Homo sapiens: one gene and its partners. The protein of the gene in region 2 interacts with the protein of the main gene of each other region in a pairwise test. Each region holds a gene or a part of one and is shown on either strand. Other genes may lie near its edges.

Region 1 (2,914 bases), on a different chromosome or scaffold from region 2:
TCTGAGATAGTCACACTGCCGGCTGTGGCCCTCTGACTTTAACTCTCCTCCCATATAGAAGGTACTCAGTAAATGATCATCTCTAGGTTGGGGATGGCAAATAATCATCTCAACTGCCAATTCCAAGTGTCTTGAATACACTAAGGCACAATGCTGTAGATCAGTTGGCCACAAATGCAAAGGGCATGTAAATAGGTAATGGTGGTGCTAGTAGCAAATTGGTAGATAGTACATACTTGCCATTTCTATACTAGGAAGTCCTCTTAGTGGAGATGTTTTCATTTTCACTGGATAAAAGATAGAAGGAAGGAGATGATAGAGGAAAAGCAGGGTGATGGAAGACAAGCCAAACACTCTTGCATGGTAACCTTGTAAATATACCTGCTCTATGTGGGTGCTGCATGCTAGGAAAGTAGGGCTGGGGGCTTTTCTGCATGTTTATATGCCTCCAACTGAATTTGAGGAGAGTAGACCACCAGTATGCTTAAATATGTGATACTTGTTAATGTAATACACCATTCAGGAATAAACTGAGAGTTCTGAGGAACAATCTGGTCAGGTGAAGTTTATTTACAGTAGGTTAAGAAATTAATAAAAAGTCAGAAATCCTAAGTCAGTTGGAAAACCCAAGCTGTAATGTACCCAAACCTTCTGAGTTTTTCGCTGAGTTGCTTGCTTCTGATTTTCACCCAAGGCAGTTGTCACAAATTATTCAGATCATCAGGTTGTCTTTATTGGCCAGGAACACTGCCAGTGCTGCAGCAATCACCACCATCAGCACTGGGAGCCATCGCCCACATTGCCTCTGTAGGGGGACAGGGAGACAGAAGAAAGTGGCCATGAGTGGATTGGAAAAGATATAGGCAAAAATCTTTCTTCTTCCTACTCTAGCCCAGTGGAAAACGCTGGGTTGGTGGTGGAGAAAAAGCTTTTTACTCTGTCTCCCATTTTGTCACCTGTCTTGGGATAAAACCACTTAACCAATGTTCTCTGGCCCAGGGAGCCGTATCCATCAGGGACCAGATATATAAATACTGATATGAATAATGAAGGGTGGAAAATAACCCAGCAAAATTATATTCTTTCTTTGTATTCCCCAGTACTTTTGTGTCCTTCTGTTCTTGCCACCATGCTTATCATCGGCTAAAAGAACACCCTTTCATACTTTAGCTAAGAGTAAGTCTTTCCTTCTGGCATTGAGAGTTCTGTGAAAGTTGGGCTTTGATGGACGAGCCAGTGTTTTTTTCAATGGTTGCCATAATGTCAGTATAGTATAAACCAAGCACAGTGGGACAGGATGGCCAGTTGTTGGCGTGGGCTGATATATTTTATGTGCAAAACTTGGTTAAAGAAGGAATCGTCCCATCATCCAGGGCTTTATGGGAAGGAGAGACCCTCTTACTCTGGGAGGCAGCTGCTGGCTCTGGTTCAGCTCTTCTCGACAGTGCTGCAGCTTACGCAGGCAGGAGAGATACTCGTCACTGAGGTTGTCTAATTCTGAATGCAGTTCTCTGCACTGGGGAGAACATCACCAAAGTCATCACTGTCACTTCTGTCTAGGACAGAGCCCAGGCAGGGGAGACTGCCCTTTGTAAGTTTCACTCATTTGGAATTTTTACCACCATCTTCCCTTCCCAGCCATTCTCAGGGATTTGAGTTTGTCTTTTGACTGTCTTACATTGTCTGGAATGTGTTCATTTAAATGATTGACAGTAATGCATATTATAGTATTACATTTTATACATTTAAGTTCTTTTATATGACTTTACGTGCAAGTGCTTTGCAAATGAGAGACACCGAAAAATGAAGTTCTTATAGAACAAACGACCTAGAAGTGACCTTAGTACAAGTTTCTTTCCCAGGAGCTAGTTGCATATCAATACTTCTGGGGATGTGTATGTTTGTGAGTATGTACAAAGGAAGAGTTTTACTCTTTAAGAGACATATAAAGACTTAAGATACTCAATGTGGGACGACATATTGAGAAGTTAATATTTTTATTAAATGTGTTTGAGTTTTGGTCGACTTTCTAAAAGGTAATCATTTAATAAAACCTTGAATAGGAGTTGGTATAAATAAGGAAGGGAAAAGATTGACAAGTCAGCCCAAAAGCACAGACACTTTATGTAGGCAAATGAATGTCTGTGGTTATCCACTCACAACTTAAACTTTGAAATCCCTGCTTTTTGACTGCCTCCCAGGTTTCTCTGCTATTTCGCAAATGAGCCCTCACTATCTCAGGTCACCCTCTCACCTCCTTTTCCTTGGCCTGGAGCTGCAAAGTCTTCTTTTGCAGCTGGTCTCTGAGATCCCAGTCTTTCTCCTTCCCTGTACCCTCAGGCTCCACTTCGTTAGGGAAGGACTTTGGACTCCACACGGGCAAAGCCTGATCTAAAAAAGCAGCCAGATTCTTGGTGACAGTGAGGCCCACACCTCTGAGGAAGGGCCCTGAGGGTGAAACCACTAGGAGTGGGGAGAGGGGAGGGAACTTGGGAGGGCGTGCTCTTGGCTAGACTGATGGCATTCTCTGACATAAAGGTTAACTTCCAGTAGGCCCCTGCTAAGCTTGGACAGACAGCTGGAATCTGAGCTCCTTGAGGGCAAGATTGGGATCTTTTCTTTGTATCCCCAGTCTTATCTAGTGCTAGATAGTTTTAGTGAATACTTCTTAATTGAATTTCATTGGTTGTATGTCACATTCTTCCTAGTTTGTCAAATAAGTTTGGTAAATGCTTTAATACAATCCCTTTTCCCTGATGTCCTCATTTGAAAGTTGTGAAGATGGCAGTCATATCCTAAAATTTATCTTCATATGGTTAAAGATGGTTTTTTAGCCACCCTGCAGTCTTAGTCTTGGTGAAAAGAGCATGGACTAGGAGTCAGAAGTTTTGGATTGTTGTTATAGCTGTGTTGT
Region 2 (3,756 bases):
CATATGCTAAGAACAATACGCTATAAAAGCTACACACACACATTTATGACAAATCACAGAGAAGGACATGAATAAGAAGCAGAAGTCTCTTTCCTCTCCTTATTCCCCAATGTATAAGCATTTCTGTGTATGCTGCATTTATACAACTGAATGTTATGCAGCCATAATGAGATCTGGAAAGTTATTCAAAATACATTTTAAAATTTAAAAAAAAAGTTACAGATTAACAAATAGTATGTCGCCTACCCCATACTCTTTTTCTTTCTTTTTTTGAAACATAGCTTACTAAAAAAAAAAAAATGCATGTAGCAAAAAATGAGGGGAAGATCCATCAGCCAGAAGCTAGGTGACTACTATCCCATTCTCATCCACCTGTTTTATTGGTTCCTTGCTATACAGTGGTATAACCCAGGATAACCCACCCTCAACCTTACCTTTCCAGCAACCATTTTGGGATCCACAGGGAGGGAGGACCTAGGACTCACAAGTAAGCAAATATCTATTTGTATATATACTATTCAAGCATACATTTTGGAAACACAGTATAGTGTATGAAATACAATCAGCATTTTAAGTGATGACAAATATCTATTTGAAAAAATAAGACGGTCATAGTAAGTAAGTATCAGATTCAGGTATAGATTTGAAAAGGAGGTCACAGTAATCCTTCAGAGTTTTAAACTTTTAACAAGACAAATTTCCTTGTATTAATGTACAAATCTACAAATCTGCACCTATAAAGTAATTATACTATAAATATATCTTTGTAGTGTTCACCATCACTAGAAGAGAAATCTTAGGGAGAGGAATGAGGTGAGAAGAAGAAAAAAAGGCAAGGAAGACCTCCCTGCTAGGGAGTAGCAAAATACAAACGTAAGCAAGTGTTATGGACTGAATTGCATCCTTCCCCAGTCCCCCAGACCCCACCCCTCGCCACTGGAAATTCACATGTTGAAGTCCTAACCCCCAGTACGTACCTCAGAATGTGACTGTATTTTAAAATAGGGTCTTTAAAGAGGAAATTAAATTAAAATCAGGTCATTAGAATGGGCCCTACTCCAATATGACTGGTGTCCTTATAAAAAGAGGAGATTAGATCTCTCTCACACACACACAGAGGACCATGTGAAGACACAAGGAGAAGATAGCCATTTATCATTTATCAACCAAGAAGAGAGGTTCAGAAGAAACCAACCCTGCCAACACCTTGATCTCTGACTTGTAGGCTCCAGAAATGTAACAAAATGAATCTGTTTTGAGTCACTCAGTCTATGGTACTTTTGTCACTGCAGCTCAAGCAAACTAATACAGCAATGTAAACAGCCTGCAGATTCCATTCCTAGGCTTCTGTCCAAGAAACTCACATACACTTGCCCAAAAAACTCTGACAAGGATGTGCGACACAGCGTTGCTCATAAAAGAGGAAAAAAATGGAAAAAAAAAGTCTCTTAGTAGGAAAATGATTTACTTATGAAATACTGTAAACAGTTAAAATATTGCTTTACACCAAAATTTCATATATTTACAAGTATTTATGTTAATTTTCTAAAAAGCAATTTACAAAAATACATACAACATAATGCTATTTATGCAATGTTTAAAAACACACAAACTAATGGAACATAGTTTTTGTGCATAAAAATATAGTTTTAAAAACATAAATAGGATATGATTTCAGGATGCTGTGATAGTCCTGGGCAAGTGAGATGCTGCTTTATAATGTCAAATTTAAGAGAACTTGTGTTTTCTTCCACACAATACAAATTCAGACAAAAAGAATGAGGTTTTTGCCTTCATTAAGACTTACCACTAGAGAAAAAGGATAATTCTCCAAGAAGTTCTGTTTGTTTAGAGGTATTAACAACATAGTCTTCAAAAGAAGTCTGAGCTGCAGGTCTAAAGCTCTTCAAAGATTCTGTGGCTTTCTGTATTCTGCAGACAGATATTTTATATAAAAATGTTTCTTTAAGAAGTCAAATCAGACTAAATATCTGCAACATGATTAACAAAATAAAACCCACACTTCACTCAAAATTAAAGTTAAGAATGAGGCAAGATGTACCTCACATTAACACAGCATTATGGACCAATCAGAGCTAAAGTGAGAATACACAGCAGCATTTAATAACATTGCTCAATAGGTTCTAAAGTTAGAAGTAAAAGAGAATACCTGAGGTGGAGCTGCTTTGCTGTCTGCACAAAGCAAGACTGATCTGTCTCCTTTAGCACTTCTTGAGCATATCCCACAAGTCCATTGTTCTCTAGAAGTCCCTGGTACTCTTCCATTTGAGTCTGAAATTTGTCTAATCTTAGTTTCTTAGAGGAGTCAATTGCTTTCAAAACAGATGATTTCCTCTCTTCCAGAACTTCAAAGAGCTTTTCAAAATGTGTAATTGCTTCTTCTTTAGCCCTCTCTCCATTACACTAAGAAAAAACAGTATCTCCATTACACTAAGATAAAACAAAGAATAGCCTCTTCTGCTAAACCCAAATGGCTTTCCACAAAGTTCTACATAATTACATTTCATCTATGTGATGACAGCATTATCAAAATTTGATAAAACCAACCTAGATATTATAAAGAAAAAAGTTTTATCTAACTCTGAAATTTTCAGAACAATATTTTGGCATCAAATACACTTAGCAAAGAACAACTGACAACTTTTATTCAGATTTACTTTGTAATTTTATAATATTGTACTTCCTTAAGCTTTTCATCTCCAAAGTCTGGCAATAAACAATTTAGTCAATTAAATAAGAGAATAATCTTTCAGTGGTATATAAAGGAATATGAAGGAGAAATGAACTGATTTAAACAAAAACAGGAAAACACAATTCCAGAACTTTGAATTCATTTCAAATTCAGAAATGTTTTCACCCTTTCTACGCTACTCCAACTTTTTAAAAAGTTGTTTTTGTTTTTTTGAGACAGAGTCTCGCTCTGTCGCACAGACTGGAGTGCAGTGGTGCGATCTTGGCTCACTGTAACCTCCGCCTTCTGGGTTCAGGTGATTCTCCTGCCTCAGCCTCCCAAGTAGCTGGGACTACAGGCACATGCCACCACGCCCAGCTTTTTTTCAATATTTTTAGTAGAGATGGGGTTTCGCAGTGTTAGCTAGGATGGTCTTGATCTCCTGACATCATGATCAACCCGCCTCGGCCTCCCAAAGTGTTGGGATTACAAGCATGAGCCACCGCGCCTGGCCTAAAAAAGTTTTTAGCCACAAAACTCTAAAATATGACATTCTTTACTAAGATATAAAAATAAAAGTATCCTCTTCACTTTAATATAATTATAATTAAATCCTGACTTAGCTGTGTGACCATATGCTAATCATTTCACTTCTCTTTCTGTTTTTTCTCTTCTGAAAATAGGGGATAAGAAAAACCATTTAGGTTTTTGTGAAGAGATTTTAAAAGGTTATTTACATAAAGTATATACCACAGTGTCACATACTGTAAATAAACATTCATACAAACTGTCATAAAATGACCCTAGTGTTTGTTAAACATTCTGAATTCCTATAAAATCAGAGCTCATGATTTTGAGAAGACTGGCAAACACTCCTAAGCACTTATTATAACAGACTCACAGACAGCAGCCAACAGAAAAAAAGTCTTCAAGAACATTCTTTTTTTTTGAGACAGAGTCTCGCTCTGTCGCCCAGGCTGTAGTGCAGTGGCGCGATCTCGGCTCACTGCAAGCTCCGCCTCCAAGGTTCACGCCATTCTCCTGCCTCAGCCTCCCGAGTAGCT
Region 3 (3,756 bases), on a different chromosome or scaffold from region 2:
GAGGGTCATGCAGCAACTCAGCTCGTCAATCAACTCCATGATGTGGTTGTAGAAAATAACTTATCTGATAAACAGAAGTCTATTATCACAGAAAAACTTGCCGTAAGTAGGTACTTTGCACATGTCAATGGAACATTTAACTACCTGAAGGATGCTAATTTCTTAAATTTTTCTCGTAGGAAGTTGACAAATGCCTAGCAGATGGTGCTGATGAACATTTGCAACTCATCAGCCTTTGTGCAACTGTGATGCAGCAGTTATCTCAGAATTGTTAACGTGAATATATCTGGATGGGGGGTTTTGTAAATAATGAAGTTGTAATAAAAATAAAATGACCAAAAGCACCTTTAAAGTGAATATACAATTTATTTAACATTCAAACTTCATTAAGACATGTGCAATATGGCAATTTTACTGGGGATTAAACCCTACCTAGGATTGCTTGCTGGGGCTTAGCAACAGGGTCCAGTTCACACTTAGCACTAATTAAATACTTTATTGAATAAATACAATACCAAACAAAATGCATTCAAATGCTTTCTAAAAAAATTTTAAAGGCCTTTCTACTCAGGCTAATGACAAACACAATAAAGGCAGATATGCTAGTTTAACATAATTGGCTGATTTTATACAGCACTTATATCTTTTAGTCCACAAGTATATTATTAAATGATAGAGAACATCTAATACAACCATTTCTACAGAACTAGGAAATAAATTTCTAAGAAAGAAAGATTTTACAGACCCCATCTTTTATACCCACCCCAACAGTCTAACTCTAAAGAGGATAAAGCCAATGACTTTCCTCACAAGAGCTCACGACTAACGTCGCTTTGCTATCAAAATCTGTATTTCTGATCCGTTATGAGCATTGAGACAAGATTCAAATATTCCCAAAGAAAGAAGCACAATGCACGTTGTGATCGCCTATTCAGCAACAGCGAGCACTGCATCCAAAACTCTCATCCCAGGAATTAAATAAGGTCAGCCACATTCATGGGCATCTCCTCCACTGTAGTATTGTAGAAAGTCTCAATGTCACGAAGAATCCTCTTGTCTTCTTCAGTAACAAAGTTTATAGCCACACCTTTCCTCCCAAATCGACCCCCTCTGCCAATTCTGTGTAAGAAAAAGAATCAGAACGTTACTTCTCACATAATGTATAAACTACTGAACATGACGATCCACTTGTTAACCACCAGCTGCTGTTTACTTATCAAGGTTATAGTTCGTGCTTCTAACTGGAGCACTAGCTGCTAATGCATATCTAGAGAAAAAAATCTTCCTTTGCAGTTAGTGCCAAAAGGATTCAAGGCTTGTCTGGCTGCAAAATGAGATTTTTATCAGGCATCTTGAGCATTATTATAAAGCAGATGACAGTATCGTGTTTGGGGTAGTGAAATTAAAGCCCATACCAAAGTGGGCCAGCCAAGAGCAGGTGTCAGCCTGGGACAGATGTGAACACCAGGAATAAAAGAGCAGTTATGTAATCCATTTCGACGCACTTCTGGAACTGTAAACTGTAAACAAATGCTGCAAAGGTTAACTATTTTCTAAAACTTACTTTTTTCCAGTGGGAAAACAAATATTTGGTATGGTAACCCAAACTTATCACTGCTTTTTTGCTCAGTTTCACACGTTGTAACTCAAATTACTCTAAACGTGTTTAACTGCCAAACAGCTACCTGCATGTTAGAAACCAGACAATACAAACCACCTAATAAGAAAGGTTCCCTAATAGAAATACTAATACAAAAAAATGCCTTAGCTGGAGCAACTTAAAAATCAAATAATCATGACAAAAGAAAAACAAATATAAATACCGACTCGCTCTTTATTCAAACAGTGTGCTGTTTCGCTTATGATTCCACGTCCTAAATTACGTCAACGCCGTTTCTGAGTGCCATCTCGTCACCAACTGCTGCTATCGACTCCTGTATTTTTTAAAAAGTCTTTTTTTACATCATATAACAAAGTACAATTCAATTTATTTAGGGATAAAGCCACTATAACTAAACCAGGGTTCACTCAAATTGCTACCAGGCGACACCAAGAAAATCCCAACTATAGAAAAAATCACCAAGAAAAACACATGGACACAAGAACATCACTAAAAGCTCAAGCATAAGGTAAGACCAACAATTGTGGAAAAAAACCCTATGTCCACAATCTGGGCAATGTTTACAAGTTTTCCCACTTTGTTCTCATCAACCTTCCCTAGTACAAATTTAATTACATCATCTTACTGAACACTACTGACTTTACTGAATCTATTCCTTGATTTGATGTTACCTTTCATACAAATCACAGTAGAAAAACGTATGAATTTTTTTCAATACAGCCAAGATGCTGGCTTCTCACCTGTGAATATAGTTTTCACGATTGGTAGGTAGATCATAATTTATAACCAAAGACACTTGTTGCACATCAATCCCGCGAGCCTGAAACACAATGGCATGTTTTAAAAATTGATTCAAAAAAACTTGACACCTGTCATGTAGGCCACAAAATAGTAGCGAACTATACTAAGTGGTATAGCCCACTGTGGAGTGTGGTCTTTTACTCTTCCAAATAGCCCAAGTTGGCAAAGGTTACTTAAAAACCTGCCCCCCAAAAAGCTAACTTTTGGTAGATTTTTAAAAAGCATTAAGAGACTTACCAACAAGTCAGTAGTGATCAGAACACGACTTGACCCTGACCGGAATTCCCTCATGATAACATCTCTCTCCTTCTGGTCCATGTCACCATGCTGCAAATTAATAAACCTTAATTCAAGAATCACCAGTCAGGTCGGTATTTAATTTTAATCAACATGTATGAGACCAAGCGTCCCTGGCTGCTACAGGAGAATAGCAGACAGGTATAGTTAAGAAACAACTTTATTTTAAGCAGGGGGAACGACAACACAGCACTTAGCAGCTATATTGTAGTCTGAATCCTGCTTTAGTGGAAATCCAGACATTTTAGAACACCTCTTACCAGAGCAGAAACTGTGAAGTCTCTGGCATGCATCTTCTCAGTCAGCCAGTCCACCTTGCGCCTCGTATTGAGAAAAATAACAGCCTGTGTAATGGTCAGTGTCTCGTACAAGTCACAAAGTGTATCCAACTTCCATTCCTGTAATGTTTAGAAGTTAAAGTTAACAGTCATTTAGTTTTTCCAACTCTTCAGTTAAAAATTCATTCTGGGCCAGCCACAGTGCTAATGCCTGTAATCCCAGCCCTTTGGGATCCTAGCACTTAGAGCCCAGAGTTCCAACCAGACCAGGGTTTCAAGAAAGTGAAACTGTCTCTACCCAAAATACCAAAATTGGCCAGTCTTAGCCAGTCTCATAACCCAGTCTCAAAACGTAGAAATTATAAAAATTAACTTCATTCTGTTAGGTCTAATGAGATATTGCACCAAATCTTAAGACAAAGGACATTGGACATTAAGAAAGAGGTCCACCCCAGTCTTTACAATCTAGTGCTGTTACTTTTCTTCTTGTGTGTACTCTGCTAGCATTATTGCAAAAACCAAGACATGGTCCTAGTGTCTGCAATTTTAGCACAGTGCTTATACAAGAAGGTAAAATAATGTCTAACAATCAGACAGTTACCTCTCTCTCAACATTAATATAAAACTGTTTGATTCCTTCAAGGGTCAATTCTTCCTTTTTCACCAGAATTCGAATTGGATCTCTCATGAATTTTTTGGTCACTTCCAACACATCAGTTGGCATTGTGGCAGAAAGCAACACAACCTTAAAAAGAGAAA

What was found.
Region 1: the proteins of TRIM36 (region 2) and TRAF3IP3 interact in binary tests that used the Homo sapiens proteins (3 or more experiments, as listed by UniProt).
Region 3: the proteins of TRIM36 (region 2) and EIF4A2 interact in binary tests that used the Homo sapiens proteins (3 or more experiments, as listed by UniProt).

The regions. Positions count from the first base shown.
Region 1 is NC_000001.11:209,779,947-209,782,860, reverse strand, and holds the end of TRAF3IP3 (TRAF3-interacting JNK-activating modulator), read right to left. Parts: exon of another isoform or gene 2,392-2,914; coding exon 2,255-2,391; exon of another isoform or gene 1,517-2,254; coding exon 1,403-1,516; exon of another isoform or gene 806-1,402; coding exon 713-805; 3' UTR 551-712; downstream 1-550. Other genes in the region: UPF0739 protein C1orf74, read left to right, coding at 1-36. UniProt on the Homo sapiens protein: Adapter protein that plays essential roles in both innate and adaptive immunity. Plays a crucial role in the regulation of thymocyte development.
Region 2 is NC_000005.10:115,135,193-115,138,948, forward strand, and holds part of TRIM36 (E3 ubiquitin-protein ligase TRIM36), read right to left. Parts: intron 2,425-3,756; coding exon 2,171-2,424; intron 1,933-2,170; coding exon 1,808-1,932; intron 1-1,807. UniProt on the Homo sapiens protein: E3 ubiquitin-protein ligase which mediates ubiquitination and subsequent proteasomal degradation of target proteins. Involved in chromosome segregation and cell cycle regulation. May play a role in the acrosome reaction and fertilization.
Region 3 is NC_000003.12:186,786,488-186,790,243, reverse strand, and holds the end of EIF4A2 (eukaryotic initiation factor 4A-II), read right to left. Parts: intron 3,743-3,756; coding exon 3,599-3,742; intron 3,573-3,598; exon of another isoform or gene 3,392-3,572; intron 3,118-3,391; coding exon 2,980-3,117; intron 2,946-2,979; exon of another isoform or gene 2,811-2,945; intron 2,750-2,810; coding exon 2,660-2,749; intron 2,632-2,659; exon of another isoform or gene 2,495-2,631; intron 2,442-2,494; coding exon 2,362-2,441; intron 1,120-2,361; coding exon 975-1,119; 3' UTR 347-974; downstream 1-346. Other genes in the region: RFC4 (replication factor C subunit 4), read left to right, coding at 1-102, 180-275. UniProt on the Homo sapiens protein: ATP-dependent RNA helicase which is a subunit of the eIF4F complex involved in cap recognition and is required for mRNA binding to ribosome.